4 separate regions of the Homo sapiens genome follow, and regions 1, 2 and 3 are each linked to region 4. The links come from fine-mapping of genetic effects on gene expression. A gene starts in region 4. Each other region holds a variant in brackets. All regions are shown on one strand. Distances are between the middles of the regions.

The links.
Region 1: its variant is fine-mapped to the expression of GPR157 in monocytes after R848 (Quach 2016, PIP 0.95). The same link has a PIP of 0.9 or more in monocytes, monocytes after LPS and monocytes after Pam3CSK4.
Region 2: its variant is fine-mapped to the expression of GPR157 in blood mononuclear cells (TOPMed, PIP 0.98).
Region 3: its variant is fine-mapped to the expression of GPR157 in atrial appendage (GTEx, PIP 0.92).

Annotation. Positions count from the first base shown.
Region 1 is chr1:9,160,263-9,168,365 of GRCh38, reverse strand. The region is part of intron 1 of MIR34AHG (MIR34A host gene); the gene reads left to right. Among named protein-coding and RNA genes, the nearest start is that of MIR34A, 13 kb to the right of the region's middle. RefSeq lists silencers at 3,552-3,601, 5,372-5,441, 5,592-5,661 and an enhancer at 4,112-4,441. The variant A/G (reference allele first, on the strand shown) is at 4,346.
Region 2 is chr1:9,082,620-9,090,722 of GRCh38, reverse strand. It overlaps a transcript of SLC2A5 not described here and LOC124900441. Among named protein-coding and RNA genes, the nearest start is that of SLC2A5, 17 kb to the right of the region's middle. The variant G/T (reference allele first, on the strand shown) is at 4,450.
Region 3 is chr1:9,096,907-9,104,992 of GRCh38, reverse strand. GPR157 (G protein-coupled receptor 157) reads left to right here. Exons shown (of 4, transcript NM_024980.5): 4 at 359-4,688. The coding sequence ends at 574. Among named protein-coding and RNA genes, the nearest start is that of GPR157, 28 kb to the left of the region's middle. RefSeq lists an enhancer at 1-894. The variant A/GAACTCCTGGGCTCA (reference allele first, on the strand shown) is at 4,182.
Region 4 is chr1:9,125,821-9,133,923 of GRCh38, reverse strand. GPR157 (G protein-coupled receptor 157) reads left to right here and starts at 4,822. Exons shown (of 4, transcript NM_024980.5): 1 at 4,822-5,279. The coding sequence starts at 4,897. RefSeq lists enhancers at 2,945-3,034, 3,325-3,444, 3,465-3,534 and silencers at 4,236-4,555, 4,616-4,965.

The DNA.
Region 1 (8,103 bases), 34 kb before region 4:
GCTGGAGTACAGTGGTGTGATCATAGCCTACTGCAGCCTCAAAATCCTGGGTTCAAGCGATCCTCCCTCCTCAGCCTCTTGAGTAACTGGGACTACAGGTGCACACCTGGATGATTTTAAAATATTTTTTTAGAGATGGCCTCTCCCTGTGTTGCCCAAGCTGGTCTCAAACTCCTGGGCTCAAGAGATCCTCCCACCTCAGCTTCCCAAAGCATTAGGATTACAGGTGTGAGCCACCGTGCCTGGTCTGAATTTCTTGCTTTACATGTTAGCTGGGAAGTAGATGCCCTCAAGAATGGTGGAGCATATGAGCTGTCCCTCTAGGTCAGTCCCATGGCCACCCAGCTCCAGCCCTGTCTCTAGGTGTGTGAATCCCTTTTGCACAACAGAGAGCCTGGGGAGGTGGAAGGTCTTGGTGACACCTTGTGAGTTATTCACACTGGCTGTGGGTGACAGAGCCAGAGGTGGGAGCACAGAGCTCTCACAGCACAGAGGAGTAAGGAGTTGAAGCTGCAGAAACAATGCTGAGGCCTGAGGTGGAGGAACAGTTGTAAATGGAAAATTAGACGGCAGTTCTGCAGGTTGGAAAGTGGGTGATAAAGTGGGCGTGCAGGCACCATTCCAGGAGGCTGTGCCTTGTGTGCATTGAGAGCAGGTCAGGTGGCCAGGAGGCTCCAAGCTTAAAGCTGCCAGGTGAGCCAAGCATTTTTTTTTTTTTTTTTTTTTTGAGACAGAGTCTCCTTCTGTCACCCAGGCTGGAGTGCAGTAGCGCGATCTTGGCTCACTGCAACTTCTGCCTCCCAGGTTCAAGTGATTCTCCTGCCTCAGCCTCCTGAATAGCTGGGATTACAGGCGTGCGTCACACGCCCAGCTAATTTTTGTATTTTTAGTAGAGATGGGGTTTCACCATGTTGGTCAGGCTGGTCAGGCTGGTCTTGAACTCCTAACCTCGTGATCTGCCTGCCTTGTCCTCCCAAAGTGCTGGGATTACAGGGTGAGCCACTGCGCCTGGCCTTTCTTTCTTTTTTCTTTTTCTTTTTCTTTTTTTTTTTTTTTGAGACAGTCTCACTCTGTCACCCAGGCTGGAGTGCAGTGGTGCCATCTCGGCTCACTGCAACTTCCACCTCTGGGGTTCATGCGATTCTCCTGCCTCAGCCTACCGAGTAGCTGAGATTACAGGTGTGTGCCACCACGCCTGGCTAATTTTTGTATTTTTGGAGACACCAGTTTCACCATGTTGGCCAGGCTGATCTTGAACTGCTGACCTCAGGTGATTCCGCCTGCCTCGGCCTCCCAAAGTGCTGGGATGACAGGCATGAGCCACCACGCCCGGCCTGGGCCAAGCATTTTTGCAGTGACTTTCCTCCTTGTGAGCAGCCTCAGAGGCAGGCACTGGATCCAGAACCTCGTCTTGATCCTAACAGCCTCTGTGTGCCAGCTGCAATAGCATCCAAGCTACAGGGAAGCAGTTTCTATTTTCGCATTGGAGTCAGCGGCTCCTGCCTGCCTGGTGGGTCGCATCCTCCCATTCTTTGCTCAAACTTCAAAAGGGCCTTCCAGGATCCGCCTTCCCAGGGTACATTGAAGAGCTGGTGTTTCCCCACATCCACCCTCTCTCCCGAGGAAAGGCCGTGGTCTGAGGGGAACGGCAGTGGCAGGGGCCACCTACTCAGGGGGAGTGCAGGCAGGAGGTCTAGGGGTGTAAGATGGGCAGCCTCCCTGCTGCAGGGGGCTCCCAGCTGGAGCGTGGACTTGTTTCTCTCATTTCCTGAGGTTTGCTGGAGACAGGCGTTTGCTTAGCGCCGGGAGCTGTCTCCTGTGGTCTCTGTCCTTTGACTTATTCAGAGTCTCACTTGGCGTCGGTTTTCCAGGGTCTGGTAACCAGGATGAATGACGCATGGAGTTGCAACCCAGACTGCAGTTCAGGAGTTTCCCAAGCAGGCAAGGCTCTGTATCCCGTGAAAGGGGGTGTGGATACGAGATATTCTGCCCTTATTCTTATTTTTTCCTAATGTTCTTTTAGATTTATAAAATAAGTAATAATACTCATAAAAACTCAAACGGGCCAGACGCGGTGGCTCATGCTTGTAATCCCAGCACTTTGGGAGGCTGAGGCTGGAGAAACACTTGAGCCCAGAGGTTTGAGACCAGCTTGAGCAACATAGTAAGACCCTGTCTCTAAAAGAATTGTTTTAAACATTAGCCGGGTTGCCAGGTGCAGTGGCTGACGTCTGTAATCCCAGCACTCTGGGAGGCCGAGATGGGCAGATCACCTGAGGTTAGGAGTTCGAGACTAGCCTGGTCAACATAGTGAAACCCCGTCTCTACTAAAAATACAAAAATTTAGCCAGGTGTGGTGGCGCACACCTGTAATCCCAGCTACTTGGGAGGCTGAGGCAGGAGAATTGCTTGAATCCGGGAGGCAGAGGTTGCAGTGAGCCGAGATCACACCACGGCACTCCAGCCTGAAGGACAGGGTGAGACTCCGTCTCAAAAAAAAAAAAAAAAAAGATTAGCTAGGCGTGGTATGGTGGTGCACACCTGTGGTCCCAGCTACTAGAGGAGCTGAGGGGGTAAGATGGATGGCTGGAGCCGGGGAGGTTGAGGCTCTGGTGAGCTATGATCATGCCACTGTGCTGCAGCTCAGCGGGTGACAAAGCCAGACCCTGTCTCTGAAAAAAAAAAAAAAAAAAAGTCAAGCAATTCATATGTAGATGCAGTTAATGAGCTGGGCCTATTTCTGTCCTGCTTCTTCCCTAAGTCCCCAAACACCTCCCATATCAGCCTTGGGCATGTGTCCTTCCGGTTCACCCACTTCTTGGAGATGCTTTCTGTTGACTATTTGCTGAACTCTGTGGCCGCCCAGAAAATACTCCAGGGAGTGTGATGTGCGTCTATTTCCGGAGCCTCATTTCAGCAGGACTGGTGCCTGGTCAGGGTCTAGACCCTCCACCTCAGGGCCTGCCGTGGAGCAGCCAGAACCCTGGCTTCCCCCAGGTCCCCTAGACAGGCTGCTGTCACCTCTGCCCAGCTCTGGACTCTGGGGTCTCCCCAGATGAATGCACGGCTCCCTCTCCCCCAGGCCCTCATCGGGGACAGGTGGCCTCTGCATGTTCCACTGGTCTGGCAGGTCAAGAACTCAGATTGTTTTAACAGTGGGTGAGGCTTTTATGTATTCAGGTGAGACAACGAATGTGAAAGCTCATTGTCACCTGTAAAGCACCTACCAGTCTGCTGTGACGATGACGGGATGATGAGAACTGTCATCGCTCCTTCTCATTCCTGTGGCTTTACTGTGGGACCTTGAGAGCCAGAGCAGCAGGGGGGAGGTTCTGAGGGTCTAGAAGCCTCGGCAAGGGGCTGTTGCAGCCAGGGGCAGTCAGGCAGGGTCACCCATGCAGGGGCAGCCAAGTGGCTTGCCCAAGCTGGGGTCTATGCCTAGAGGACCCTCCAAAGATGCTGACCCCCTGAAGCCTGGCATCACCCAGGGAGGAGCTGTCACCACCATGGCCCTCTGGGCTACTAAAAACAACCTTTTGCCCAGGACTTGCAAGGAAGAGAGAGAGAGTTCTCGGTGGATGAGAACAGTTTTTCAGTGGCAGTGCTACAGACATTTGGGGCCAGATGATTTTTTGTGGTGGGGGCTGCCCTGTGCACTGTAGGATGTTTAGCGGCATTCCTGGCTTCTACCCACTAGAAGCCAGGAGCACTCCCTACCCTTCAATTGTGATAATCAAAAACGTCTGGGTTTTTTTCTTCTTTTTTTTTTTGAGACAGAGTCTTGCTCTGTCACCCAGGCTGGAGTGCAGTGATGCGATCTTGGCTCACTGCAACCTCCACCTCCCAGTCTCAAGTGATTCTCCTGCTTCAGCCTCCCAAGTAGTTGGGATTACAGGTGTGTGCCACCATGCCCAGTTAAGTTTTGCATTTTTAGTGGAGATAGGGTCTTGTCATGTTGGCCAGGCTGGTCTCGAACTCCTGACCTCAAGTGATCTGCCCGCCTCGGCCTCCCAAAGTGCTGGGATTACAGGCATGAGCCACCACACCCGGCCCCAAAAATGTCTTTAGATATTGCCAAATGTCCCCTGGGTGACAAAATCATCCCCCAAACTGCTGGATTAGAGGCTTTGGAAATGGATTTTCTGTGACCACTGCTTCACCATTGTAAGCTGCCTCTCATTTGGGTGCAGTTTTCTTTGTTCCTTTTCCAAAAAGCTGACCTCATCGGGCCCATTTGTTTGTTTCGTTGACTCACCCAGTCTAACCGCAAGCAGCCTTCCTCCTCTGGGGGATCCCAAATGACTTATCATGGGACTTTGTATGTAAATTTCAAAGATTATTTTCT[A/G]CTAAATCAGAGGCAGAAATCCTCAACTTCTTTTTTAGCAGCCTTGGTAAATACTTCCTTAGAGTGTTTAAGGGGCGTGCCGCACTCCTGCTGGTGGTCTGATTGTGAACACCTTTGCTGTTCAGTTCCCTGAAATCGCCAAATATTTCCCTCTCCTTTGGGTCTCAGCCCAGTGACTAGCGGATGATCTAAGGGCCAGGGCGGTCTGAGTTGGCTAGTGCACCGGGGATTTTCTTAAGGCCTTTGACCCGGGGACTGGTGTGGGAGGAAGGCAAAGGCCTGGTTGTTTATGAGCAAGGAGGAGTCAGGTCCGAGGATGGAGCCCTTCGGGGTCACTGCCCTGGGCCCTGCCCCTCTCCTGCACATCAGGCCCCTTGGACAAGGCCCGTGTGTTTGCAGGACCCTCTTGGGGCAGCAGAGCAAGGGCTGGCTTTGAGAGAGAGCCTCACTTTTTTGTTTTTTTTTTTTTTTTTTTTTTTAAGTAGAGACGGGGTTTCTCCATGTTGGTCAGGCCAGTCTTGAACTCCTCACCTCAGGTGATCTGCCCTCCTCGGCCTCCCAAAGTGCTGGGATTACAGGCGTGAGCGACCGCGCTCGGCCAGGGCTTCACTTTCAAGCTCAGTGCTGCTCTGAGGGGTGGACACAGCCCTGATGTCAGTAGCTGAAGACCTGCCTGGCCACACTCAGCAGCAGTTAGCCTTCTCCTCCCGCGCCCCGTGAACAAGGCTGTACCCTGGGAGGTTGGGCTCTGTCTGAATTCCATCACAGGTCCTCTCCTGGGCCTTGCCCTGCTTTGTTGCCTCCTTAGGAGGATGTCTTCTGGTTTCCTAGGAAGGGCTTTATATCTTAACATCCACCCTGCATTCAAAACCCAAGTTATCAAGACCACAGGGCACCACAACCCTCCTCTTGGCCTTGCGGTTTCTATTCTTCAGTGACTCCCAGAGGTTTGGCTTGATTGGCAGCTTAGAAGCACATGATTGAACTTGAGCAGTGGTTGAAACTCAGAGTCAGATGCCTGACCCGCCCCAATCCCAGGCACAGAGTCTGACCTCACACCCAGGCTGTGCTGTGTACTCAGTTGTTCAGTATCGACTTGAGCTTGACGGGCATCAGGGGCCAGGGAGTGAAAGGGAAGAGAAGCCAAATCTGGCTGCTAAGGGCTCTCAGTCCTGGAGGGCAGGAAAATAGTGGCCTTGCCGCTAGACCTGATGCCACCTGCCCCTCCAGCTGTACCCCCTCAACACCTTGGGTAATACCTCAAGCCCCACGTCCTCTTCCAAGCCAGATAGGACCCCAAGTGCTGGGTGATCCTTATTGAAGGGTAGGGACAGGAGGGACCCGTGGGATTGTGTGTGCTCAGAGCGGAGTTCAGGGGCACCTGAGGGCAAACTGTCTCTTTGCTCCCAGGGCTGTCCTCCGTGCCTTTACCTGTGCTGGGCCCTGGCAGAGCTCTGAGTCTTCTGGATTCCAGCGTCCATAGTAGCTAGTCTGTCCACTGCTGGAGAAAAGCTGCTTTCCCAAAATAGCCACCCAGGGGGAAAGAGCAGCCCTGGAATTTGACCCTGACGATCACCGTGACGGGGCTGCTGGCCCCACCTGGCCTGACCTCCACGACATCACGGAAGGACTGTTGGTTAGTTGTGGGGGCCAGGATTTTTCCTCTGTCCCCCTCCCCTCTTCTTCTTCCCTTTCTTCTTTCTCTCTGCCAGCTTCAGGTTTGAAATTCCAGTGACACCGAGGGAGATGCTCCAGTGCCTGTCCGGCTGGGGGGCAGGTCACATGGTGGGAGCAGAGAGGGGAGGGCACTTGTGCGCCTGCACCTCTTGGCAGGTGAATGCACACCTATGGAGGGGCCTGGGTGCTGGCAGCGAGCCCCGCTCCCTGCGGCTGTGCCAGGCCCAGAGGCGGCAGCGAGCCCAACAGGTCAGACAGGTGGAGCCAGGCTGGGGAAGCTGCAGGACCAGAGCTGACATCCGATCAATCCAAGGTCCTTCTTTGGCCCACAGAGCAGGTAACCCACCCTTTTCTTTCTTTTTTTTTTTTCTTTCTTTCTTTTTTTTTCTGGTTTAATTCACTGACAACTTTAGGGAACATTTACAACCCGAGAAAAAGGCCATTGAGATTGGGGGGCAATCGCGAATTGTTTGGAGAGGGATTTGTGGTGTTTTGTGTGGAGGAAATTTGGCCTCGGCATTAGAAAAGCATTTCTAATTTTCAGGTCTTTGATTCTGAAAGCAGATTTCTTATGGAGCCTGGGTGCTGGGTGGCATATTGGGGAGGCAAAGCCCAGAAGCCATGAGGGTTTTCCTGTGACTGCTGATGGAACACCGTGGGAGGCTGTAGTTTGGTGGCCTGTTTGCCTCCATAAGGAGGGGTTGGGGCAGAGACAGGGTGGTCGGGGGACTGCTCCGCGACAGGACTTGGCTGTATGGGGGAAGCTCTCCCAGTTCCTATCAGAGAAACACGTGGAGGGCTGGACTCCCTCCAAAATTCAAATTTATGCTACAGGCCCTTACTGGGGCTGGATTTTACTTGGAGATTGTTTGGAGTTTTGAAATCACCTCTCCTGGTAAGAAGACTCGGTCTCCTGTGTTCTTGCCCCCTCTGTATCTTGGCCAGTGATGGTTCCCTTAGACAAATTGATGGGGGATTTCTGGCCTGAGGACAGGAAGAAAAGGAGCCCAGGTCTGTTTCAGTGAAGAACAAGCCCAGGACACCCCACCTGAAACTAGGACTAGTTTTGCCCAGTTTGGCATCGTTGAAAACGCATTTGCCCTCTTCCTTGAACCAGGCTGTGCCTTCTTCTATCTGTTTCCCTGCCATGGAACATCACCCAAACATTTTACTGGGAAGGGGAGGGGTAAGAGCAGATACAATGCTTGTCTGAAACCCCCGTTGCATGGCATTCTTTGCAGGGACAGGACAGGGGAGCAGTTTTTGCTGTTACCGAACCCTTTGTGACAGAGATGCTGTTTGTTAAGTGATTTGCTTTTTTACAAAAAAAATTCCAAGGTAATTGATGATGACACAGTTGCTTAGACTATGGAATATACCAGTTAGGATTCCTTCAGCTGCAAGTAAGAGAAAACCTTACTTAAAATGACTTAATCAGAACAGTAAACATTTTTTAAGGCTAGGTGCAGTGGATCACGCCCATAATCCTAACACTTTGGGAGGCTGAAGCAGGAGGATCCCTTGAGCCCAGGAGTTCGAGACCAGCCTGGGCAAACAGGCAGATGTGGGGTATCTCTACAAACAAACCAAACCAAACCAAAACAAAAAAACTAGCCAGGTGTGGTGGCATGCACCTGTGGTCCCAGCTACTCAGGAGGCTGAGGTGGGAGAATCGCTTGACCCCAGGAGGTGGAGGCTGCAGTGAGCTGGGATTGTGCCACTGCACTCCAACCTAGGCAAAAGAGCAATGCACTGTCTCAAAAATAAAAAAAGTAATAAACCAAGTAGTCCAGAGGTAGGGCAGCTTCAGGACAGGTGACATCCAGGCGCTCAGTAATGTCAAGGACTTTGGTTCCCTCCGTATCTCTGCTCTGCTGCCCTCACCCCACTGGCTTCATTGCCTGCCAGTTCCTCTCCCATTGGGCTCCTCCCGGGGTCTCCTCATGAGTGAGGAAGCCTTTCCCAAAGCCCATGCTGACTTTCTCACACACCTCATTGGCCAGAATTGGGTCTTGTGCTCAGCCCCAAACCAATCAGTGGCAAAGGAAGGGATGACCTCGAGGACTTCATGAGGCACGTGG
Region 2 (8,103 bases), 43 kb after region 4:
GTCAGGATCAGTCCAAGTGAGAGCAAAAAGATTTTGAGAGGAGGTATGTAGAGGGATAGTAAAAAAGGCATCTTTAAGGCTTATTACAGAGAAGTTGCTAGTGTTGGGAGGAATTCATGACAGGAGGTTATAGGGGTTGGGGACAACAGGATAAACAGGAACAAAAGCGGAGTTGATTTGTCGCAAATCCTGATCCAGTCTATAGGAGCCATCCTGTTTTTTAATTGGGAGAATAGGATTATTGTGGGAAGAATGGGTGGGGATTAAAATATTGGCAGCCAAAAGTTGAGAGATGATGGGCTTGAGTCCCCGTAATCCATTCAGGATTGAGGGGATATTGTAGGACCACTATATAGTGCTTAGGATTCTTCAGTGAAATTTGGATTGGAGAATGGTGGGTAGCTATTATGCAGAAGTCAGTGTTCCATACTATGGGGTTTACTTGGCTGAGGAATTTGGGATTTAAGTCTGTTTGATGTTGAATGTCTGAGGAGGGGTCTGTTCTTGACATAATAATATATAAGAGTGGCTTTGGTTTAGGGCCAATAAATGAATGATTCCCCCTAGTTTGTGTAGAATGTCCCTTCTTAATAAAGGAGTGGGACAGTGAGGAATGACCAAAAAAGAGTGAGGGTGACTCCCTGAAATGAGCAGTATAGTGGCAGTGTTTTGTTTCTTATATGCCCCTCACGCCAACAGAAACGGATGAATGTTCTAATGGGCCTTCATATTCAGTTAATACTGATAGGCTCGCCCCAGTATCCAAAAGAAAGGAAGTAATATTAATGGATACTGTCCAAATTACCCTGGGTTCCATGGACTCACTAGATGTGGGGGTGAAGAATCCCAGGGACCCTCATTCCTCCATGGGCAGTGCCAGCTGTGAAGAGATTTCCTCCTGTGATGGTCAGGGGGCTTCATTATGAGTGGCACCCAAACGGGGAAGGTGTTCCCATTGGGGGCAGTCCATTTTCCAGTGTTCCCAAAGACTGCAAGTTGGGCACAGTTTGGTGGGCAGCCAGGGGTTAGGCCAAGCCTTTGGCCAGCGTCCAGGGTTGCCACATCAGAAACAGACTCCCAGAGAGGTGGGGGAGTTTCCTTTTGGGTTGTTGGGAGACTTTTGTGTAATTGACTTTTGGACAGCAGAGGCAAGCATCTGGTATTTTAAACAGAGACGCTTGCCTTTTTGAATTTTTTGTTCCTTGTCTCTGTTGTTAAAGACACAGAAGGCTGTATTTAGGAGATCCCACTGAGATGTCTGGGGACCCTCCTCTAATTTTTATAATTTTTTCTAGATATCTGGGGCAGATTGGGAAATAAATTGAAGGTGGTGAAAAGTTTGACCTTCTCTAGATTCTGGGTCCAAATTGGTATGTTTTAGCATAGCTTCAATGAGGTGTGATAAGAAAAGGGTAGGATTTTCCTGGGGCTCTTGTGTAATTTCTCTAAGTTTTTCATAATTAGCTGCCTTATGGGCATTTTTGTCCATGCCCACAAGGAGACAGGTAATTGTGTGGTCTCTTTATCTGATGCCAGCATCTCCCTGTTGGTAAGTTCAGTTTGGGTCTCTATGGGGAACTGCATCATTAGCCACTGGATTTTGTATAGGGGCTTGATTATGGAGTTTATCTGCGTGTGTTTCAGCTGAACACCAGATGTACTCTTTTTCGTCAGGAGTGAGGGTGGAGGTTAGAATTATATGAATGTCATGCCAAGTTAAATTAAAGGATTGAATTATGTGCAGGAATTTCTTGCGATAATGAGAGGAGTTTTCAGAGAAAGATCCCAGATGCTGTTTGATTTGTGACAAATCAGAGATGGAGAAAAAGACATGAGCGCAAGGGATGCCTTTAATCCCAACCACTTTCCAGAGAGGAAGACTGGCAGGAGTGGCTTGACTGGCTGAAGTAGCTTTTGCTGTTGTTGTTGTTGTTGTTTTTGAGACGGAGTCTTGCTCTATCACCCAGGCTGGAGTGCAGTGGCGCGATCTCGGCTCACTGCAACCTCCACCTCCTGGGTTGAGGCAATTCTCCTGCCTCAGCCTCCTGAGTAGCTGGGACTACAGGCACCCGCCACCACGCCTGGCTAATTTTTTTGTATTTTTAGTAGAGACGGGATTTCACCGTGTTAGCCAGGATGGTCTCAATCTCCTGACCTCGTGATCCACCCACTTTGACCTCCCAAAGTGCTGGGATTACAGGCGTGAGCCACTGCACCCAGTTGAAGTAGTTTTTGAGTGGGTAACGGGTGAAGAATGTGGGGGAGAGTGGCAGTTGGCCAGATGCCGAACCACCACCAGGGGTGGTTGGCAAACTGCAGCCACCCAAGGGGCTGGAGTAGTTTTCAAACAGGTAATAGGTGGAGAAGGAGGAGGGAGGGGGTTTGGTGGTAAAGGCTTGGGAGCAGGAGGGGCCAGCTGGGTGTAGGGTTCGGGTGGGTGAGGAGTGGATGCAGAGAGTTGAGAATATGGAGGGGTTTTATCTGCAGGGTCAAAAGGGGTTTCAGAGGAGGGGTTCCAGAGGAAGGAAAAACCCAGGGAGGATTTTCATTAAGAAGAGGGATTTCATGAAGGGTGCAAGCTTGGCATAGGGAGGGTCGGGATCTAAGACAGAAGAAAGCCTGAATACAGGGAATCTCTTGCCTTTTGCTATTCCTGGTTGTAAAGTTGTTAAGGTCCCTGAGAATTTGAAAGTCAAAGGTGCCATTTTCAGGCCATCAACTGTCATTATCTCATTTGCACTGGGGCCAGGCTGTGTTGTAATAAAAAACTAAATGCTTTGGCTTTAGGTTCCCCCATAAGCCAAATGTTGGATGTTCCAGTTGGAATTGGCAAAGGGCCTCCTGGACTGGAGGCACACGAGGAAGAGAGAGAGAGAGAAGAGGAAGGAAGAGGGAGCAAGTGCTAGAGAGCGAAATACCTGTTGCGGGCAGTTGGAGGTGGATTCCTGAGACCTGAGGGTTTTGAGAGCCCACCGGAGAGTAGCCCTGGCCCGAGTCTCACAGTCCCCTTCAGATTAATTGTCCTCCTCACATAAATCGCTTGAAAAGTGAAACAAGAGAAAAGACAGGGCGGCTGTCCAGAGGCTCTCAGGATCCAGGAGTTAATTCAGGATGAGGGCCGCTGCTGCCCACTGCCTCTTGGGTTGCAAGAGAGCCTCTGCCGCCAACACCCATCCCGGGTTTTGGCACCAAATGTAAGACTTAAAGAAAGAAGAAAGAGGCCAGGTGTGGTGGCTCACGCCTGTAATTCCAGCACTTTGGGAGGCTGAGGCGGGAAGATCACAAGGTCAGGAGATTGAGACCATCCTGGCTAACACGGTGAAACCCCATCTCTACTAAAAATACAAAAAATTAGCCAGGCATGGTGGTGGGTGCCTGTAGTCCCAGCTACTTGGGAGGCTGAGGCAGGAGAATGGCGAGAACCCGGGAGGCGGAGCTTGCAGTGAGCCAAGATTGCACCACTGCACTCCAGCCTGGGCGACAGAGCAAGGCTCTGTCTCAAAAAAAAAAAAAAGAAAGAAGTAAGAAACACAAAATGTGGCTTGACAGTTAAGGACAGGTTTATTTTAGAGAAAACAAACCTGAAAGTGGCTTCTGGCCGAGTTAGGTGAGACAGCTCTTCTCTCTTACAGACCTAAGGATATTTAAGGGTTTTGAAAGAGGGGACTTATCATAGATTCGGAATGTTTCTATGTGAAGGAAAGTTTATTGTGGGGTTGGAATGTCTCTGGTCACAGGGGAGGCTGTCTTGGGGTTGGCATGTTTCTGGTCAGAGAGGGATTTATCTTAGGGTTGGAATGTTTCTGGTTATGCTGACATTAGCCATTAGGCTGATGTTTTGGGGCTGGATTTAGGGGTTTTTTAATCAAGTGGAACTTAGGATGGTGGTGTTTGCTCAAGATGGTGATGCTCCTGCTCTGTCAAGCACCAGTACCGTTTTCCATACCCTTATGATGGCATTCCAGAACCAATCAATAGCACCCATTCCCTAGTCCACTGCCCACCAAACTATCTTTGAAAATCCCTAACCTCAGCCAGGTGCAGTGGCTGACGCCTGTAATCCCAGCACTTTGGGAGGCCAAGGTGGGTGGCTTGCTTGAGATCAGGAGTTCAAGACCAACCTGACCAACTTGGTGAAACACTATCTGTACTAAAAAAATACAAAACTTAGCCAGGCGTGGTGGTGCATGCCTGTAATCCTAGCTGCTCAGGAGGCTGAGGTAGGAGAATCACTTGAACCTGGGAGGCAGAGGTTGTAGTGAGCTGAGATTGTGCCACTACACTCCAGCCTGGGCAACAAAGTGAGACTTCATCTCAATAAAAAAAAAAAAAAAAGAGAGAGAAAAAGAAAATCCCAGCCTCTGAGCTTTCCGGGAGATTAATTTGAGTGGTAACTCCCTCTCCCTTAGGGCGTGGCTGGCCTCGCAGCAATTAAACTCTTCCTTTACT[G/T]CAATGCCATGGTTTCAGTCAATTGACTTTGTCTGTGTAGCGGGCAGAAAGAACCCATCGGGCAGTTACACTTCAGGCAATGACTAAGCTGGAGAAAGAGCCCTTGAGAAAGTCCAGCTGTCATTATCCCTGCTAGTTAGCCTTTCTTCATTATCCAAGTGATCATGAAGATTGAACTCCCTGTCCCACTTCATATTAACTAGTTCCCTTCCTTTGTTCTCAGGGCCCCAGGCCCATCCTCAGCAGTCAACAGAGGACCTGGGAGGGAAGACTTATTCTTGTTGGGCAGTACCTGTTAATGAGGAAAGCATTTCCAGCAATTTCTTAGGACCATGATACCAGAGATGGGATCAGACCCTTCCTCCCTTCAGCTTTTCTCCCTGGCAGACAGCAGAACTCCCAGGATTTGCCTGGGCCCGTTGCATCAGGGAAAGCTTTTCAAATACCAGCAGATAAAACCTTTCTGCAGCCAGCACTTGTCTTGGCCTGGAGGGGAGCAAACCTGCCCCGTCCTGCACCACTGCCACCCCAGTGTAACCAAAGGTAAAATTCTAAGCCGCCCTCCCGACACAACCATCTGAATGAACTTCCTCCTCAGTCAGGGCTCTTAAAACTTAACCTGAGAGACTGTTTCAGGCCATAATGGAAGTGGGGTTCGAACATGCCTCATCAAACCTCTCCAGCACCAACAGTGACACAGACTTTAAGGCTGATAAAAAACATTTTGCAACTTATTCTCTCTGAAGCCTGCTAGCTAAAAGCTTCATCTGCATGGTAAAACTTTGGTCTCCACAACCTCTTATCTTACAGACATTCCTTTCTGTTTAATCCCAGGTCTTTAGACAAATTCAAACAATTATCAACCAGAAAGTGTCTAAATTTACCTATAGCCTGGAAGAACCCTCCCCCACCTTTGAATCGTCCCGCCTTTCTAGACCAAAACAATGTATTTCTTAAATGTGTTTGATTGATGTCTCATGCCTCCTTAAAATGTAGAAAAGCAAGCTGTACCCTTGGGCACATGTTCTCAGAACCCCCTGAGGGCTGTGTCATAGGCCGTAGTCACTCATACTTGGCTCAGAATAAATCTCTAAAAATATTTTACAGTTTGACTCTTTTCATCAACACCAGCACCACATTATCCCAGGAGGAAAAGCAGACGCGTGACAGAGTCAGAGAGCAGGCATAGAGTGCTGTGGCAGTCAGCCAGTGCCCACATCAACACCAAGGAGAGTCCTGCGGGTGCTGTGCAAGGCCGGGGTAAGTCAGTCCTGGTTGGGCACAGAGGCCTTGGGGCCGGGAGGAATCACTGATGCGCCACATTCAGGAAAAGCCTAGAGCAGAGCTTCTCGAACTTAAATGTGAGCTTGAACCACCAGGGATGTGGCCAAAATGCAGGTTCTGATTCAGCAGGTCTGGAGTGAAGTGGATTTTGCATTTTTCTAACCAGCTCCCAGGTGATGGGGCTGTTGCTGGTTTCCAGACCAACGGGGGCTGGAGGATGGTCTGGTTCCAGGGCCACCCAAGGGTGTGGCCGATGCTCACATGGTGTGGCTGCCCCCATAGGGCTGCTGGCTTCCAAAGCGTGTTTCTCAAGATCCTGGGTGAGATGCAAGATATGTTATCTGGATCTGGTGCCTGATGTAGTACCAGAGTCCGTGATGTGCTGGAACATGTTCAACAGGCTGGGATGGTGGGCCCGGGGCTGATTTATAGTGTGAGCTGATTTGTGTAATGTTTCTGATGCCAGTGGGCTAGAGGAGGTCCCCAAACGCCAGTGGGACCTTAACCGCAGGCAGTGTCCAGGCTTTTGACACCTTTGCCAGAAGGAATTCAAGGACAAGTCAGAAAATAGTGAAAGTACAGAGATTTATTGCAAAGCAAAAGGTACACACTCAAGAAAGGAGAGTTCGGGCCTACTCAAGAGAGAGTTGCACCCAGCAGGGTTGGGAGCTTCCACCTTTATGGGTTTCTTTAACCAAGGGGTGGGATATTTATGAAGATTCCTGGAAAAAGGTGAGGGTTTCTCAAAATTGTGGTGTTACCTGTTTTTATGCCAAATATGGATGTCCCAGGAACTGTCATGGCACTGGTGGATGTGGGTTTAGTATTATTATTATTTTTTTTTTTTTGAGACGGAGTCTCGCTGTCGCCCAGGCTGGAGTGCAGTGGCGCTATCTCGGCTCACTGCAATCTCCGCCTCCCAGGTTCACGCCATGCTCCTGCCTCAGCCTCCCGCGTAGCTGGGACTACAGGCGCCCGCCACCTTGCCCGGCTAATTTTTTGTATTTTTAGTAGAGACGGGGTTTCACCGTGTTAGCCAGGATGGTCTCGATCTCCTGACCTCGTGATCCGCCCGCCTCGGCCTCCCAAAGTGCTGGGATTACAGGCGTGAGCCACCGTGCCTGGCCGGGTTTAGTATGTGTTGTTTGTTTGTTTCTTTGTTTTGATATGGAGTTTCACTCTTGTTGCCCAGGCTGGAGTGCAATGGTGCAATCTCGGCTCACTGCAACCTCCACCTCCTGGGTTCAAGTGATTCTTCTGCCTCAGCCTCCCGAGTAGCTGGGATTACAGGCATGTGCCACCATGCCCTGCTAATTTTTTTGTATTATTAGCAGAGATGGGGTTTCACCATTTTGGCCAGGCCGGTCTTGAACTCCTGACCTCGGGTGATCTGCCCACCTCAACCTCCCAAAGTGCTGGGATTACAGGCATGAGCCACCGAACCCCGCAGGGTTTAGTATGTTAATGAGCACATAATGAGGTCCTACGTGAAACCTAGGTCAAATCCAGCGCTATGTTGATTCCAGTCGGCCTTAGCCAGCTTGGCCCACATCCTGTTTTTCAGGGCCCCTACTTCTGCAGCTATTTCAACAGTTTCCTTTTGCTAGTCATGCAAAACTGCTGCCTGGAATTTTCTATTCTCCTGCGACCACCCTGTATTATTCCTGTCTCATTTTCACCATGGCTGATTTCAAACCACTGTGGAGAAAAATGTGCACTTTCGTGGAAAATTGCATTGCTTCAAGCATACTCTTCCCGAATCAGCAGGGCCCTGCCCTTGCGTTGCCTTTGAGCTTACAGTTCTGTAAGTTGTAGATAAATGATGTCCCAGCAAAGTAGTTGTCTTTAAAACAATTTTTTTGAGACAGAGTCTTGCGGTGTTACCCAGGCTAGTATTGATTTCTTTTTTTTATTGGGGTGAAATTTACATAACATGAAATCAACAATTTGAAAGTGAACAATTTGGCAGCATTCACAGGGTTGCACAATTAATGAATAACTTCATCTATTTCTTCACCCCAAAAGGAAAAGGTGCCTATTAGCTGTCACTGCTCATTCCCCCTGCCCCCAGCCCCTGGCAGCCACCAATCTGCATTTTTTTTTTTTTTTGTCCTGTTTGCAGTACCATACATGATCATCGAACTGCTGCTAGAATGCCCACAGCTGTTACTGCAAATTCAAAACCCAGGAAAGACTTCTGGGAATTTACTTTAGGTCAGGGTTGGGCTGCCTGGTGCAAGATTGCACCCACAACTGGGCAGGTTCAAAAACATAGGAGCCTTTCCCCAGACCATCAATCTGCATTCTCTATGGATTTATCTATTCTGTATCTTTCACATAAATGGAATTGTACAATATGCAACCTTTTTC
Region 3 (8,086 bases), 29 kb after region 4:
AGTCTGGCTTTGTCACCCAGGTTGGAGTGCAGTGGTGGGATCTCGGCTCACTGCAACTTCCGCCTCCTGGGTTCAAGCGATTCTCCTGCCTCAGCCTCCGTGTCGCTGGGACTACAGGCGCCCACCACCATGCCCAGCTAATTTTTGTATTTTCAGTAGAGACAGGGTTTCACCTTGTTGGCCAGGCTGATCTTCAACTCCTGACCTCAAGTGATCCGCCCACCTCAGCCTCCCAAAGGGCTGGGATTACAGGTGTGAGCCACCGCACCCAGCCTAGCCGTTTCTCTTAATTGCAACAGCGCGTGTGTTTCTGAGACCAACTCCAGCCCCATGCTCACAGCTCCTTTTCTCCCGACAGGGTATCGGGAACACGTTTCAGGGAGGTGCCAACTGCATCATGTTCGTCCTCTGCACCCGCGCCGTCCGAACTCGGCTCTTCTCTCTCTGTTGCTGCTGCTGCTCTTCTCAGCCTCCCACCAAGAGCCCGGCTGGCACTCCCAAGGCTCCCGCGCCTTCCAAGCCAGGAGAATCTCAGGAATCCCAAGGGACCCCAGGGGAACTTCCAAGCACCTGAGCTTTTGTCCTTTCTAGTTCTGTGCATAGGTGCTGCCTTCCTGGGGGTAGGCACTTCTGTGAGTCCCTGCTGCAGGGGCAGAAGTGCATGTCTGCTGCACCAGAAGCCCCCGCTATTGATGCTCTCGGCTCCATTGGGAGAGCAGCTGCCAACTCAGCTTCTTCTACCTCCTAGATCCTCAGGCAGCAAGTTCCACCGGTACCAGCGTCCTGGCCCACGGGTGGGCGTTCATCTGCATAAGGGTAGCAGTGAGATTCGGGAAGCCGGTGGCCCACAGCTGTGGCCACAGTGCCCCCACCCAGTGGACCTTGATGTCCTGAGGACCACACAGCACTGTTTACAATCTGAGGGACCCACATCTGTGCACCTATCCTCTGTGTGATTAAATAAGCTGTCAGGGGCCCTCAGAGATGTGTCCCCATCCACACATCATGGAGCAGATTCCCGGCTGGTCAGGGTGTTAAGATTCTCTGGAGAACCCGGCTTTCCTTGGAGACTTTGCTCAACAGAGGAACCAGTTGCCATTCACCAGGTTGAAGGTTCCCCTGAGGTTGCATGGTGACCACCAGGGGCAAGCACAGCCCGGCGCAGCTGCTCAGGGACAGCAGTCTCCCCGGGCCTCCTGGCCTCTCCCTCCATGGGCTGCTAACCCTTGCCGTAGCTTGGGTTTGAGTGTCAAGCACAGGCCAGAATCCACACTCCTGTCCCCACCTGTCAATCACTTCAGACACAGGTTCCCTCCTTCCAATTCCAAAGCTGGAACAAGGGCAGGAAGAGGCGTCTCAGGGAACCCCCGAAGACCCCACTGTCTCTCCAGCTCCTTTCTTAGAATCCTCCTCTTCTTGGGGAGACCAAAGGGGATGAGTAGGGAGGGGTTCTGGCTTATTTACTTCTTAGTTTAGTTTTTTGTAAGTAAAGTGGCCGGAGAGATGAGTAATCCAAATACGATTCCTCAGGCCGGGCACAGTGGCTCACACCTGTAACCCTAGCACTTTGGGAGGCCAAGGCAGGCAGATCACCTGAGGTCAGGAGTTCAAGACCAGCCTGGCCAACATGGTGAAACCCTGTCTCTACTAAAAATACAAAAATTAGCCAGGCATGGTGATGCACGTCTGTAATCCCAGGTCTTTGGGAGGCTGAGGCAGGAGAATCTCTTGAACCTGGGAGGCGGAGGTTGCGGTGAGCCAAGACCACACCATTGCACTCCAGCCTGGGCAACAAGAGTGAAACTCGGTCTCAAACAAACAAATACGATTTCTTCCTAAAGGTGAAGGTTTTAAGCTTCAGAGTCAGTTTTTTTTTTTTTTTTTTTTTAAAAAAGGAGCCTCATTCTGTCGCCCGGAGCTGATGTGGTGGTGCGTGCCTGTAGTCCCTACTACTCAGGAGGCTGAGACGGGAGGATCCCTTGAGCCCAGGGATTTGAGGCTTCATTGAACTGGGATGGCACCACTGCCACTCCAGCCTGGGCAACAGCAGGACCCTGTCTCAAAAAAAGAAAAAAACAAAGGATTCAAAAGGATTCAGCTGTTTTGTATTCAGCTGAGGTAAGTGGCGGCATGGAGCATGGAGCGATTATTTACATTTAAAAGAAAAGAATTGAAAGTAAGCACCTGTATCTCTATTTTTATTCTGTGGGTCTTCCACAAACGCTTTCGTCTTATTTCAGAAAACAGCTTCTGTGTTCAGTCACAGGAGCCATCGGCAAAGAATGGAAGTGGAAATGCTACCTCCAGGGTCTTGGTGAGAGAAAGTACAGCTTTACCTGATAGGTGATTTCCCTTGGAATCCATCAGAACTCGACAAAGCATGATTTTCTGAGCCTAGTAAAATGGTTCTGAATCAAAACCGAAGTCACGCTGTGCTGCCGATCCCTGTTTGACTCTCAAAACCAAAATCTGTATCAGGAAAGGAATAATCATTTAGCAGACTGAGTCCAAAATGCTCATTTTTGGTTTCCTGTGAAAATGGATTTCTTTTTGTCGCTTTCTTTTTTTTTTTTTTTTTTTTTGAGATGGAGTCTCACTCTATTGCCCAGGCTGGAGTGCAGTGGTGCAATTTTGACTCACTGCAACCACCGCCTCCCAGGTTCAAGCGATTCTCCTGCTTCCCAATCCCAAGCTGCTGGGATTACAGGCATGCGCCACCATGCTCGGCTAATTTTTTGTATTTTCAGTAGAGACGGGTTTTCACCATGTTGGCCAGGCTGGTCTCGAACTCCTGACCTCAGGTGATCCACCCACCTCAGCCTCCCAAAATGCTTCGATTGCAGGCATGAGCCACTGTGCCTGTCCAAGAAAACAGATTTCTTGATGGAAATTAGTGAGACAGACATCCCCTTAGGATTGAAAGAGAGCTCTGGGCTGCTCCAGGGAAAGCCACTTGGCAGAAATAGCCTCTGTAAGTGAATTCTGGATTCCCCTGAAGACGTTACAGCAAATCTCTGGGTATGTCTCTGGTAAAGACCCTCACTTGAGCTTCTAGAAGGGAGCGAAAATTCAGGAATTTGCTTGCTGCAAAAGAGAACATGATTAACAGGTAAAAGAGAAAAGACAATATAGGCCACAGAGGAATAGTGTTAGGATCAACCCTGCTCAGCAGGGGCCTCTGGAGCCCTCCCTGCTGTACCCAAGCCAGAGCTGAGACATGGCTCCCCAGATGGACTGGCTGTGGTCAGGAAAGGCCTGTAGAGGGAGCTGAGGGCTCAGAAAATACCTGCTCCGGGTGCCTGGGCTCAAGTTCTCATTCCATTTCTTTGATGCCACTGGCCACTGTATCTGCTTTTGTAAAAACCTCCAAAAAGTTATACATCAGGTATCTCTAGTCAGCTTCCTCCGCTGCCCACCTCTTGCCACAGATGAGTGATCACTGTGAATGGTGGTGACCAGGTGGGCAGGGCAGGGGCTTGTCTAAGTGCCTTAGCCCAGGCCCCTGGCCCATCGACCTCGAAAACAGCAATATCGCCTCCTTCTTAGATCCAGTTACCAAGTCAGTCTAGCTGGGTGGGTAGTGCTCAGACAGAAAGGCTGGATGGGAAGGAAGTCACATCCTAAAAGTCCAGGAGGGGGCCAGGCGCAGTGGCTCACGCCTGTAATCCCAGCACTTTGGGAGACCAAGGTGGGCAGATCACCTGAGGTCAGGAGTTTGAGACCAGCCTGGCCAACATGGTGAAACCCTGTTTCTACTAAATATACAAAAAAAAAAAAAATAGTTGGATGTGGTTTCGTGTGCCTGTAGTGCCAGCTACTCAGGAGGCTGAGGCAGGAGAATTGCTTGAACCCAGAAGGCAGAGGTTGCAGTGAGCCGAGACTGCACCACTGCACTCCAGCCTGGGTGACAGAGCAAGACTCCATCTCAAAAAATAAAACAAGTCCAGGAGGGGCTGTTACTTCTTTTTAGTTTATTTATTTTTGTGAGGCAGGGTTTTGCTGTCTGGAGCATCATACCCAGTCTGGAGTGCAGTGATGCAATCATGGCTCACTGCAGCCTCCACCTCCCAGGCTCAAGCGATCCTCCCACCTCAGCTCCCTGAGAAGCTGGGACCACAGGCCTGGCTAAATTTTGACTTTTTGTAGAGACAAGGTTTTGCCATGTTGCCCAGTCAGATCTC[A/GAACTCCTGGGCTCA]AGCGAGGGGCTGTTACATCTGATCAGGGCAAAAGGGGCTGTGCTCCTTGGACACTTTGCACAGCCCCAGTGGGCTTCTTTCTCCTCTGTTAGTGTGGTTAATGTTCATCTGCCTGCATCCCTGAGTCACCCAAGTGTAACCTCAGCCATAACACGTACTGCAGCCGGAACGGTGTCCGCAGCTCAGCGTCCCTCTCCCATGCACTTTCTGAACTTTGGTCTTTTAACCAGGTTTACCAGCCGCTTTCTGCCTCTTTGTGCTTTTGAGGGTTTTTTGGTTTGTTTGTTCTGTTTTGTTTTTAAATAAAGATGATTATTTGGCCCAGGCTGAGGGTGCAAACAGAACTCTTCACGTGTCCACGACAAGAAAAATAGTTTTTACAAACTTCTAGTTGTGGCATCAAAAGTGTGAGTTTTTGCACCTGCAAAATTGTAATGCAAGCCCTGACTGGGTGGAAGCTGAAGTCTTGCTGTTTTAAATTAAATAAATAAATTATTTTTCTCCTATGTGTTTGGTAAAGTGATTGCCTCCTGATGTGTTGTGCAGGGTGGGGAGGGGGCGGTTGCAGGACAGGTGGCTCGCATTGGCCTGTGTTGCTGTGGTTCCAGAGCCTACCATGAGGCTGAGACCTGGAGAAGACAGCTCTGCCCTTCTCTCTTGGCAAATTAGCTAAAGAGGCAGCCGCCCTGTTGGCATAGCCAGCTTCCCCTGAGTTGACCTAATAAAGATCATGGGGGTGGAGAGATAGGGAGAGGGTTTTAGAATACAGATTCCTGGGCTTTGTCCACAAAGTTGGTGCTTACCAGGGGAATGAAAGGCACTCCTATAGCAGGACCCTAGTGTAACCGCCCAGTGGGTTCACCTTGCCTGCTGCCTAGATAGAGCCGATGAGGGTCAACAGGTCCAAGTTCCAAGCACCCATGACTTGGGGCTGAACTTGATTAAGAGAGATGCTCCAGGGCTGAGCTGCTGACCCCTTCACCCTTCATGCATGGTTGTATCACACACAGGGTGACCCGCCGCAGCTGCATCTGCAGGCCTCCTGGTGGTCAGGGACTGCTGGGACACAGGGTCTCTTCTTGGAAGGGAGCAGCCTTCCAAACGCATCTACTGGAGCTGGCTGCCTTGCTGCGTGACTTGCAGATCTGCACTGGCCATGCAGCCCCACCTCCGGTCATAGTTTTCTTGAAACTGCTCCGCCTTGGGAATTTTGCTGCCAAAAGCTCCTAAACTTTCTTCCACTGTCTGGATTTTGTGCAGTTAAAACTGCATTGAGGAGAATGGCTTGAACCCGGGAGGCAGAGATCGAAGTGAGCCGAGATCACGTCACTGCACTCCAGCCTGGGTGACAGAGCAAGTCTCAAAAAACAAACAAAACAACAACACAAACTGCATTGAATAGCCCCTAGAAGTGGCATCTTGAATTTGGTTATTAAGGTACAACATACACAAACTTAAGTAATATTAAAATAGCAGGCCTGGTCCTGCTACTTCGACGCGACCACCCTGAGGTTTGTTAACTATTCTCTCCTGCCTTTGTCTTTGCATCTCTAAACTTGATGCTATGTGCTTACCTGGGAGAAAATGGAAGCATCCCCTTGAGGCCCTCTCCTGTGACCCTCCACTCATCAACTGCCATGCGCCTTTCCCTTTCCATCTGTCTCCCCTCAGTGACCTTTTTTCACCTCTTCCCTGACCTCTTCTCCGGAGTTCTCTTCGCCTTCCTCACCCCAGCAAATGCAGCATGCATTCAGAATCCAGGCTCCGTGTTCCACACTGCTCCACACCACTCCACACCGTTCCCTCTTGCCTGACCTCCTGCTTCTGCCTATATGCAGCTCACACCCCACAGGGTCACCTCCTTCTGCTCCCATAGACTTCTAAGCGGGTCTTTGGGATGCCACAGTCTCTGCAGAAACCATACGTTCCAGGGACCACTCTACCAGGCATTTTCCCCAGAGCCTGCCAGGCTCCTGGCACAGAGTCAGGCTGTATCCAAGGGTCAGCCCAGCATGCAGCTGAGGCTTAGGCCTTGCACATAGGAAAAGCTCCAGCAGGGGAAGCTTTGGGGGCAAGGTGGACCACTTTCTGAATGAAGCATGCGTGTCTAGTAACAATTACTCACCTGTGGGAGGAGAGTCCAGAATCCAGGCTCCACGAGGAAAAGGATTTGCCAGATGTGGTGGGGTCAGGACGTTGTCACTAGCTAATAGCTGGCGTTTCCTGAGTGCTTACCCTGTGCCAGGCCAGATATGAAGTTGCCCTTCTGCGGGCAGGATCCTGGAAACTGCACGGGTCACAGGCCCATGGAGTTGGCACTGCCTGTACACAGGACAAAGCTGGTGCTTACCAGGGAAGTGAAAGGCACTCCTATTGCAGGGCCCTAGTGTAACCGCCCAGTGGGTTCACCTTGCCCGCTGCCTAGACAGAGCCGATTTATCAAGACAGGGGAATTGCAACAGAGAAAGAGCGATTCACACAGAGCCAGCTGTGTGGGAGACCAGAGTTTTATTATTATTCCAATCGGTCTCCCAGAGCATTTGGGGATCGAGTTTTTAAAGATAATTTGGTGGGTGGGGAGGGGCCAGTGAGTCGGGAGTGCTGATTGGCTGGGTCAGAGATTAAATCATAGGGAGTTGAAGCTGTCCTCTTGTGCTGAGTCAGTTCCTGGGTGAGGGCCACAAGATGAGATGGGCCAGTTTATCGATTTGGTGCCAGCTGATCCATCAAGTGCAGGGCCTGCAAAATATCTCAGGCACTGACCTTAGGTTTTACAATAGTGATGTTATGCCTAGGAGCAATTTGGGGAGGGTCAGAATCTTGAATCCTCAGCTGCATGACTGCTAAACCATACTTTCTAATCTTTTGGCTAACAAGAAGGGGATCTACCTTGAGAAAAGGGCTGCTATCTTCTTTTTTCTAAACTATAAACTAAGTTCCTCCCCAGATTAGTTCAGCCCATGCCCAGGAATGAACAAGAACAGCTTGGAGGTCAGAAGGAAGATGGAGTTGGTTAGGTCAGATCTCTTTCACCGTCTCAGTCATAATTTTGCAGTGGCAGTTTCACTAGCAGGGTCTCAGAGTAGGAGAGAACAACATTGGGGTATTTATTCTTTTTTTTTTTTTTTTTTTTTGAGACGGAGTCTTGCTCTGTCACCCAGGCTGGAGTACAGTGGCACGATCTCGGCTCATCGCGATCTCCAACTCCCAGGTTCAAGCAATTCTCCTGCCTCAGCCTCCCTAGCAGCTGGGAGTACAGGCATGCGCCACCACACCTGGCTAATTTAATTTTTGTATTTTTAGTAGAGACAGGGTTTAGCCATGTTGGCCAGGCTGGTCTTGAACTCCTGACCTTGTGATCCACCTGCCTCTGCCTCCCAAAATGCTGGGATTACAGGCGTGAACCACCACGCCTAGTCCATATTTTTGAAGATCAAAACATATAGTTTCAGATGAGTCTTTCAGCCTTCTTGGGATTAGCAAGTCGTGATGTAATCCTTTCACACATGTGAGCACAGCATGATGAGGATTTGCTGGTGGCTAGTTGAATGAGTTTTGAGTCTAAGCTATCATTGGATGCTTTCTATTGAAGAGCTGATGAATCTTTCCAGGAAGTTCCTGGAGTGAACCATAAAGTTATTTGCAGCAGTTGTCTTGCAGGACAAGAATCTCCTGGGCATAGTGAAGTGATATTGATGAAGGCAGCCGTGTGTTTATCAAGTCATCTTACAGTAGACAAGCTGAGGGGATGGCTTTGATTCTCCAAGGAAACGAGAAGCAGGTGGGTCCCGACGACCAGGTTTGTGAACGACGAGGCTCTGGAAAGAGAGAGACTGAGTTCCAACTATGGCTCCATTGTTTATTATACTTGATCTTGGCCACAAGGCCGAGAAGTGGACTCCAT
Region 4 (8,103 bases):
ATGCAAACATGGATGGGTAAAAGCAAGAGCCTCCAGTGGTGGCTCCTGTCTGTAGTCCCAGCTACTTAGGAGGCTGAGGCCAGAGGATCCTTTGAGCCCAGGAGTTAAAGACCAGCCTTCGCAAAAAACAAAACAGAAAAACAGCAAGGAAATGACTGAGGGGGAAGGGGTGTTTGGGGAGGTTTGTGGTACGCTGGTAATGTTATATTTCTTGCTCTGGATGGCTGTTTATAATTATTTAATAAGTTGTACATTTGTATTTTAGGCACTTTTCAATATGCATATTTCGTAAAACAATTTATTTTTATTTTTATTTATTTTTTTTTTTGAGACAGAGTTTCACTCTTATTGCCCAGGCTGGAGTACAATGGTGTGATCTCGGCTCACTGCAACCTCCGCCTGCCGGGTTCAAGTGATTCTTCTGCCTCAGCCTCCAAAGTAGCTGGGATTACGCCCTAAATCCATGCCTGGCTAATTTTGTATTTTTAGTTGAGGTGGGGTTTCACCATTTTGGTCAGGCTGGTCTTGGAACTCCTGACCTCAGGTGATCTGCCTGCCTTGGCCTCCCAAAGTGCTGGGATTACAGGTGTGAGCCACCATGCCCAGCCTTTATTTTATTTTTGTATGAGATGGAGTCTCACTAAGTCGTCTAGGCTGGTCTTAAACTCCTGGCCTCTCAAGTGTTTCTCCCATCTTAGCCTCCCAAAGAGCTGGGATTACAGGCCACTGCGCCCGGCCAAAATAATTTTTTTAAAGTTAGATATACAAAGATAATCTTTGCTTTCTATGAATCAAATGCAAGATCAAACCTAATGTACACCAAAAACTACAAAACATCACTAAAAGGAAGTTAAAGAAGAGCTAAATAAATGGAAAGACATCCTTGGTCCATGGATAAGGAGATCTCATATTATTAATATAGCATTATTCTCCACTTTTATCTACAGAATCAAAGCAATCTCTATCAATCTTTTCCATTCCTCTTGCAGAAATAGAAAAACGGATCCTCAAATTGATAGGGAATCGCAAGGGGCGTCAGATAGCCAAAATATTGGAAAAGAAAAACAATGTTGAAGGGTAGGGTGCGGTGGTTCATGCCTGTAATCCCAGCACTTTGGGAGGTCGAGGCGGGCAGACCACTTGAGATCAGGAGTTCGAAAACAGCCTGGGCAACATAGTGAAACCCTGCCTCCACTAAAAATACAAAAATTAGCCAGGCATGGTAGCGGGCGCCTGTAGTCCCAGCTACTCGGAAGGCTGAGGCAGGAGAATCGCTCGAACCTGGGAAGCAAAGGTTGCAGTGGGCCAAGATCAAACCACTGCACTCCAGTCTGGGCAAGATAGTAAGACTCTCCCCAAAAAAGAAAAAACAATTTTGAAGGACTCCCTTCCCAATTTCAAAACTCACTACAAAGCTACAGTAACCATAACAGTGAGGTATTGGAAAGAAACAAAACATAGATGCAAACCTTCATGAGTTTGGCATAGGTGATGGTTTCTTAGATGTGACACCAAAAGCACAAACAACCAAAGAAAAAAATGGACAAATTGGACATACTCAAAAAACACTTTTTTCCTTTGAAACATGCTATCAAGAAAGTGAAAAGACAAACCACAAAATGGGAGAAAATATTTGCAAATCATATAGCTGATAAGGGTGTAATAGCTAGAATATATAAAGAACTCTTGCAACTCAACAACAAAAAGACAAACCAATTTAAAAATAAGAAAGAAAATTGACCAGGTGTGGTGACTGACGCCTGTAATCCTAGCACTTTGAGAGGCCGAGGCGGGTGGATCACTCTAAGTCAGGAGTTTGTGACCAGCCTGATCAACATGGTGAAACCCCATCTCTACTAAAAAGACAAAAATTAGCTGGGCGTGGTGGCTGGCGCCTATAATCCCAGCTACTTGGGAGGCTGAGACAGGAGAATCGCTTGAACCCAAGAGGCAGAAGTCACAGTGAGCCAAGATCGCGCCATTGCATTCCAGCCAGGGTGACAGTGCGAGACTCAGTCTCAAAAAAAAAAAAAAAAAAAAAAAAGGAACAGAAGAAAGAAAGAGAGACAGAGAGAGAAAGAGAGAGAGAGAAAGAAAGAAAGAAAGTTGAACAGACATTTCTCCAAAGAGGATATGCAAATGTCCAATACACACATGGAAAGATGTTTGAGGGCATTATTCATCAGGGAAACGCAAATCAAAACCACAATGAGGAACAACTTCACACCCACTAGGATGGCTATTATCACAAAGATAATACAAAATGTAGGAAGGCTGGGTGAGGTGGCCTCACGCCTGTAATCCCAGCACTTTGGGAGGCCAAGGCAGGAGTTTGAGACCAGCCTGGGCAATACAGTGAGACCCCATCTCCAAAAAAAAAATTAGTGGGGCCCAGGCAAGGTGGCTCACACCTGTAATCCCAGCACTTTGGGAGGTTGAGGCGGGCAGATCACCTGAGGTCAGGAGTTCAAGACCAGCCTGGCCAATACAGTGAAACCCTGTCTCTACTAAAAATACAAAAATTAGCAGGTTGTGGTGGTGCACACCTGTAATCCCAGCTACTCAGGAGGCTGAGACAGGAAAATCGCTTGAACCCGGGAGGCAGAGGTTGCAGTGAGCCAAGATCACGCCACTGCACTCCAACCTGGGCAACAAGAGCGAGACTCAGTCTCAAAAAAAAAAAAAAAAAAAAATTAGTGGGGCATGGTGACATGCACCTGAAGTCCTAACTACTGGGGAGGCCAAGGTGGGAGAATTCTTAAGCCTAGGAATTTGAGACTGCAGTGAGCTGTGGTTGTACCTGCACTCCAGCCTCGGCGACAAGACCTTGTCTCAAAAAAAAGTTTTGGAAGAATGTAGAGAAATTGCGACCTTCATTGCTAGTGCAAATGTAAAATGATATGTACAGTCACTTTGGAAAACACCTTGGCAGTTCCTCACAAGGTGAAATATAAAGTTGCGTATGGCCCAGCAACTCCATTCCTAGGTATACACATAGGAGAATTGAAAACATACACCCACAAAAAAACTTGTATGCAAATTTTCATAGTGGTATTATTCTTAATAGTTAAAAAGTGTTAACAACCCAAATGTCCATCGGCTGATGAATAATAGCTAAGTAAAATGTGGTATATCCTGCCGAGCGCGGTAGCTCATGCCTGTAATCCTAGCACTTTGGGAGGCCAAGGCAGGCAGATTGCCTGAGCTCAGGAGTTCAAGACCAGCCTGGGCAACACGGTGAAACCCCACCTCTACTAAAATAGAAAAGAAATTAGCCGGGCGTGGCGGCGTGTGCCTGTAGTCCCAGCTACTCGGGAGGCTGAGGCAGGAGAACTGCTTGAAGCCGGGAGGCAGAGGTTGCAGTGAGCCGAGATCATGCCACGGCTCTCCAGCCTGGGCGACAGAGGGAGACTCCGTCTCTAGAAAAAAAAAAAAAAGGTGGTATATCCATATAATGGAATATTACGGGGCAGTAAAAGGAATGAAGCACTGCATATGCTACGATGAACCTTGGAAACGTGCTAAGTTAAAAAAGTCAGACATAAAGGCCACAGAGCATATGAGTCTATTTACAGGAAATGTGCAGAATAAGCAAATCCACGGTAGAAGAGTGGTTGCCAGGGCTGTCGGGGAGAACTGAGGGCTAACAGCTGAGGGATAAGGATTTCTTTTTGGGAGTAATGACAATGTTGTAGAATTACATAATAATGATGGTTGCACAAACTTGTGAACATACTACTGAATTGTTCGGTTAAGAGGGCCAATTTTATGGTATGTGAATTACATCTTAATTACAAAGTTTGAAATTTTTAAAGAAAAAGCCATGCCCTGCCTAGCATTTCATTTTTTAAAAATCACACCTAGTTAGCTATGGTTTTTAAAAAATAGCATGCTTATTTTAAGAAAAGGTGGAAACGCCGGCTTCCCCAAGTCACCACCAACTTGTGAACACGTCGGGATCACGGCTGAAGGAATGAGGATCATACCCGAGAGCTGTTTCTGTTGCTAGTGGAAAGAATGCCTCTGATCCTCACGCCCTTCCACTCACAACACACACAGAAGCTGGCTGAAAAGAGGGAAAGTAATATTAGCCCTAAAAATGCCAGCCCTTCCTCTCACAGGACTGGATGTCCCAGACACCTGGCAAGAGCAGGGGTGGGCCTGGAGGAGCGTGGAGGGACAGGTGCTGGGACCTGGGGGTGCCCTGAGGTAGGGCTTAGGGACCTAGGGGCTTAGGGGCGTGGTGTGAGGGCGTGGGCGGGGCTCAGGAGCCTCGGGCACCGGGTGGAGCTTGGAAGCCTCAGGGGCGTGGCGGGGGCGGGGCTCAGGGCCCGGGGCAACGGGACGAGGAAGGGCACCTGAGCCAGGGTCAGGGCCCGGAACACAGGGGTGTGGCGGGGTGCGTGGGCGGAGCGGGGCGCGTGGGTTAGGCTCTAGGCCCAGGTCTCTGGGCCCTGTGGACAGGGGATCGGGGCGCGTGGGCGGAGCTCTAAGTCCCAGTCTCAACGCGGGGGCACACGGGCGGGGGGGGGGCGTGTGGGCGGGAAGGGCATGTGGGCCGGGGGACGTGTGTCCGGGGCTCGGATTGTGGGCGGGGCTCAGGGCCTGGGACGGCGGGACGGGGCTGGGAGTGTAGGCGGGGCTTAAAGGCCGGGGTACCGGGGTGGGGCGCGGCGCGTGGGCGGGGCTCAGGGCCCGGGATATAGGGGCGGGGCGCAGGGCGTGGACGGGGTTCAGGGCCCGGGGCCCAGATGGGCGGGGGAGCGGCCGGACGCGGGCGGGGCGGGCGCCTGGACGCGAGCCTAGGGCGCCTCGGTGCCCAGACGGCGGCGGCGTGGCCGCACGCGCGGCCCGGCTTCTGTCCTCGCGGCGCTCCGGCTCCTGGCCCCCCACGCCATGCAGCCGTCCCCGCCGCCCACCGAGCTGGTGCCGTCGGAGCGCGCCGTGGTGCTGCTGTCGTGCGCACTCTCCGCGCTCGGCTCGGGCCTGCTGGTGGCCACGCACGCCCTGTGGCCCGACCTGCGCAGCCGGGCACGGCGCCTGCTGCTCTTCCTGTCGCTGGCCGACCTGCTCTCGGCCGCCTCCTACTTCTACGGAGTGCTGCAGAACTTCGCGGGCCCGTCGTGGGACTGCGTGCTGCAGGGCGCGCTGTCCACCTTCGCCAACACCAGCTCCTTCTTCTGGACCGTGGCCATTGCGCTCTACTTGTACCTCAGCATCGTCCGCGCCGCGCGCGGGCCTCGCACAGATCGCCTGCTTTGGGCCTTCCATGTCGTCAGGTGGGTGGCGGTGGCGCTGCTTTTCCAGGAGCCCCCGACACAGGCCGACCCCTCCCGGTCTTGCCCTCCCAGAGGCCGCGTCTAGGTTGGACACCCCCTACCCACAGCAAGCAGTGCCTGCTGGCGCCCCCGAGGCTGTCCTGGGCCAGCGGGAGGAGGCCAGCCTTGCCCGAGATTCGCTCCCTCCCGAAGGAGCCCCGCTGTGCCTGCCCCAGGGCACAGCCCCTTGGGGTAGTGGGGACAGAGTTCGCCCCCAGAGCCGGGCCCTGTTTCCTTGGACGGGGCTGGGGAGGACACTCTGAGCCCCTTGTGACCTGCTTCACTGTGTCCTGGCTGTCTCTGCTGCCCATGGGGAAACAGGCTGGGAGACGAGTTAGGTAACTGTCCCGGGCTGGAGAGCCGGCAACTGCCAGTCCCACGCCACCACCCCACCCCAAGCCACAGTGAGCTTGGTGCACTCCGCCACTCCCGAGCTGCCGTGTCTCTGCTGTACAGTTTACAAAGGACTGTGCTTTTTATTCTGTCTTTGGTCGTTTCTAGCCTCAGGCCCCAGCCCCTTGTATTTCTGTTCTAGATGATCTTGACTTTCCAGAGTTCAGCAATTCTGAGATTGAGGGCAGGGGCGGAGGGCTGGTCTGGGAGTCTCGGAGTCCTCCTGGAGTCTCTCTGAGAGTGGGGAAAAGCCAAGACCTTACTTTGCGATTCAAGCGTCTTTCAAGTAAGCCTCGCTGAAGAGGGTCGGCCCTTCCCTGGGGAATGTCAGGTTTTGAAAATCTCATGGCGTCCTGTGCTGTGCTGAACTGAGGGCAGGAATCCTAGGGGCTGTTTTCCTTTTCTCCTTCTCCCAGATCAGAGCATCAGATACTGCCCTAATTATAGGTCCTTTCTATTAAAAACTTAAGTGCATTCCAAGGACTGCGAGCACAGTCAGCACTTTGGCAGAGACAGGTCACCTGGGTGTCACACGGCAAGGCTACAGGGCTGTAAGAGTCGCTTGACCTTCAGTTGTGCACTGAGGCCGGCTGGTCCTTGAGAAACTAAGTGACCTGCTTCTCAGCTGTACAAGTAAAAAATCTTTGCAACACATCATCCAAACCGAGGCTCAGATGCTGCAGATGGAATAGGGCCCTGCCTTGCCTTGCCTTCCCGGCAGCATCCCATCTGACCCTGTCTGGGTCCCGTGATGGCTGGCTGGGTGTGGGCCCCGAGTACACGGGAGATCGTGTGTACTTGGAAGGAGTCGAGGCTGTACCTCTCTTTGCAAGAACCTGTTCTCTTTCCCTTCTTGTCTTTAAAAATATTGAATACAGTATTTTTTTAATGGTAACAGAACCTGGTCCAGCTTCTGTGGAAAAGAAGGATTGCCCAGCAAACCTGAGTTGGGGGTTTTTCTGTTCGGTTCTCATTACGGACCCTCTAGGGGGGTTTCTGTGTTGTTCAGGAAGGGCTTCTTTGATAAAGAAGTAGGCCCAGTGTGGTGGCTTGTACCCGTAATCCCAGCACTTTGGGAGGCCGAGGCAGGAGCATCGCTTGAGCCCAGGAGTTCAACTGGCCAACACAGTGAGGCTTTGTCTCTACTAAAAATTTAAAAATTAGCTGGGCATGGTGGCGCATGCCTGTAGTTCCAGCTACTTGTGAGGCTGAGGTGGGAGGATCGCTTGAGCCTGGGAGGTCGAGGCTGTAGTGAGCTATGATTGCAGACAGAGCAACACCCTCTCTCAAAAAAAAAAGAAAAAAATTTTTAAAAAATGAAGGAAAAAGAAAAGAAAAAACAAGCAACGTATTCATCTTGTCTGTTGAATGTGACCTGCCTGCATCTTAAAAGAAAATAAAATTATCTGTATCCAAGCTAGAGAGGGAGTTTGACAATTTATTCTCTGGAGTTCTCAGCACTCAGACTTCGCTAGTCTAAGGGAATTGGTTAAACCTGCCTAACAGGTTCATCTGTTAACCTAGATCTTCCCAGACTGTATTGCCAATGACCTTACTAAGGACTCTCCAGTGTATTTCTTTGGAATATTAGTTTATTGTTTGCAGGATCTATTGATGTGAGAAATATCACCTTCAGGCATAGACTACATGATTATCCACTTTTTAACCATTTCATACTACTGGAATTCAGTCCTCTTCAAAGCTTTCAGTTTTAGAAAGTATTTTAAAATACGACAACACAGAAGGTTGACATCCTTATTCTAATGTGCGTTTAGGAATTGAATTGTTTTAAACCCACAAATATCCTGAAAAATGGACAAAGGACATACTCAAGCAAAATAGTAACAGCAGTTGAAAAAATATGTCATATACCATTAATATGCAAAGCAATACAAGTTATAACAGTAAGGTACCATTTCCTCATTTAATTTGAAGGAAAAAAATAGTAAGGCAGAGTTGGGCACGGTGGCTCATGCCTGTAAATCCCAGCACTTTGGGAGGCCAAGGTGGGCGGATCACTTGAGGTCAGGAGTTTGAGACCAGCCTGGCCAACATGGCAAAACCGCGTCTCTACTAAAATTACAAAAATTAGCTGGGTGTGGTGGTGCGTGTCCCAACTACTCAGGAAGCTGAGGCAGGAGACTCGCTTGAACCTGGGAAGTGGAGGTTGCAGTGAGCCACGATCGCGCCACTGCACTCCAGCCTGGGTGATAGAGCAAGTCTCCATATCAAAAAAAAAAAAAAAGGCAGAATACAAACATGATAAATGCGAGTTTCACTGGCATTTTTCTACAGTATTATTGATGGTGTGAATTGAAATAGTCTTTGTAGAAAGTATTTGGTTCATACCCCTTGATCCAATAATCCTATTTACCAAAGCCTAGTCTAATGA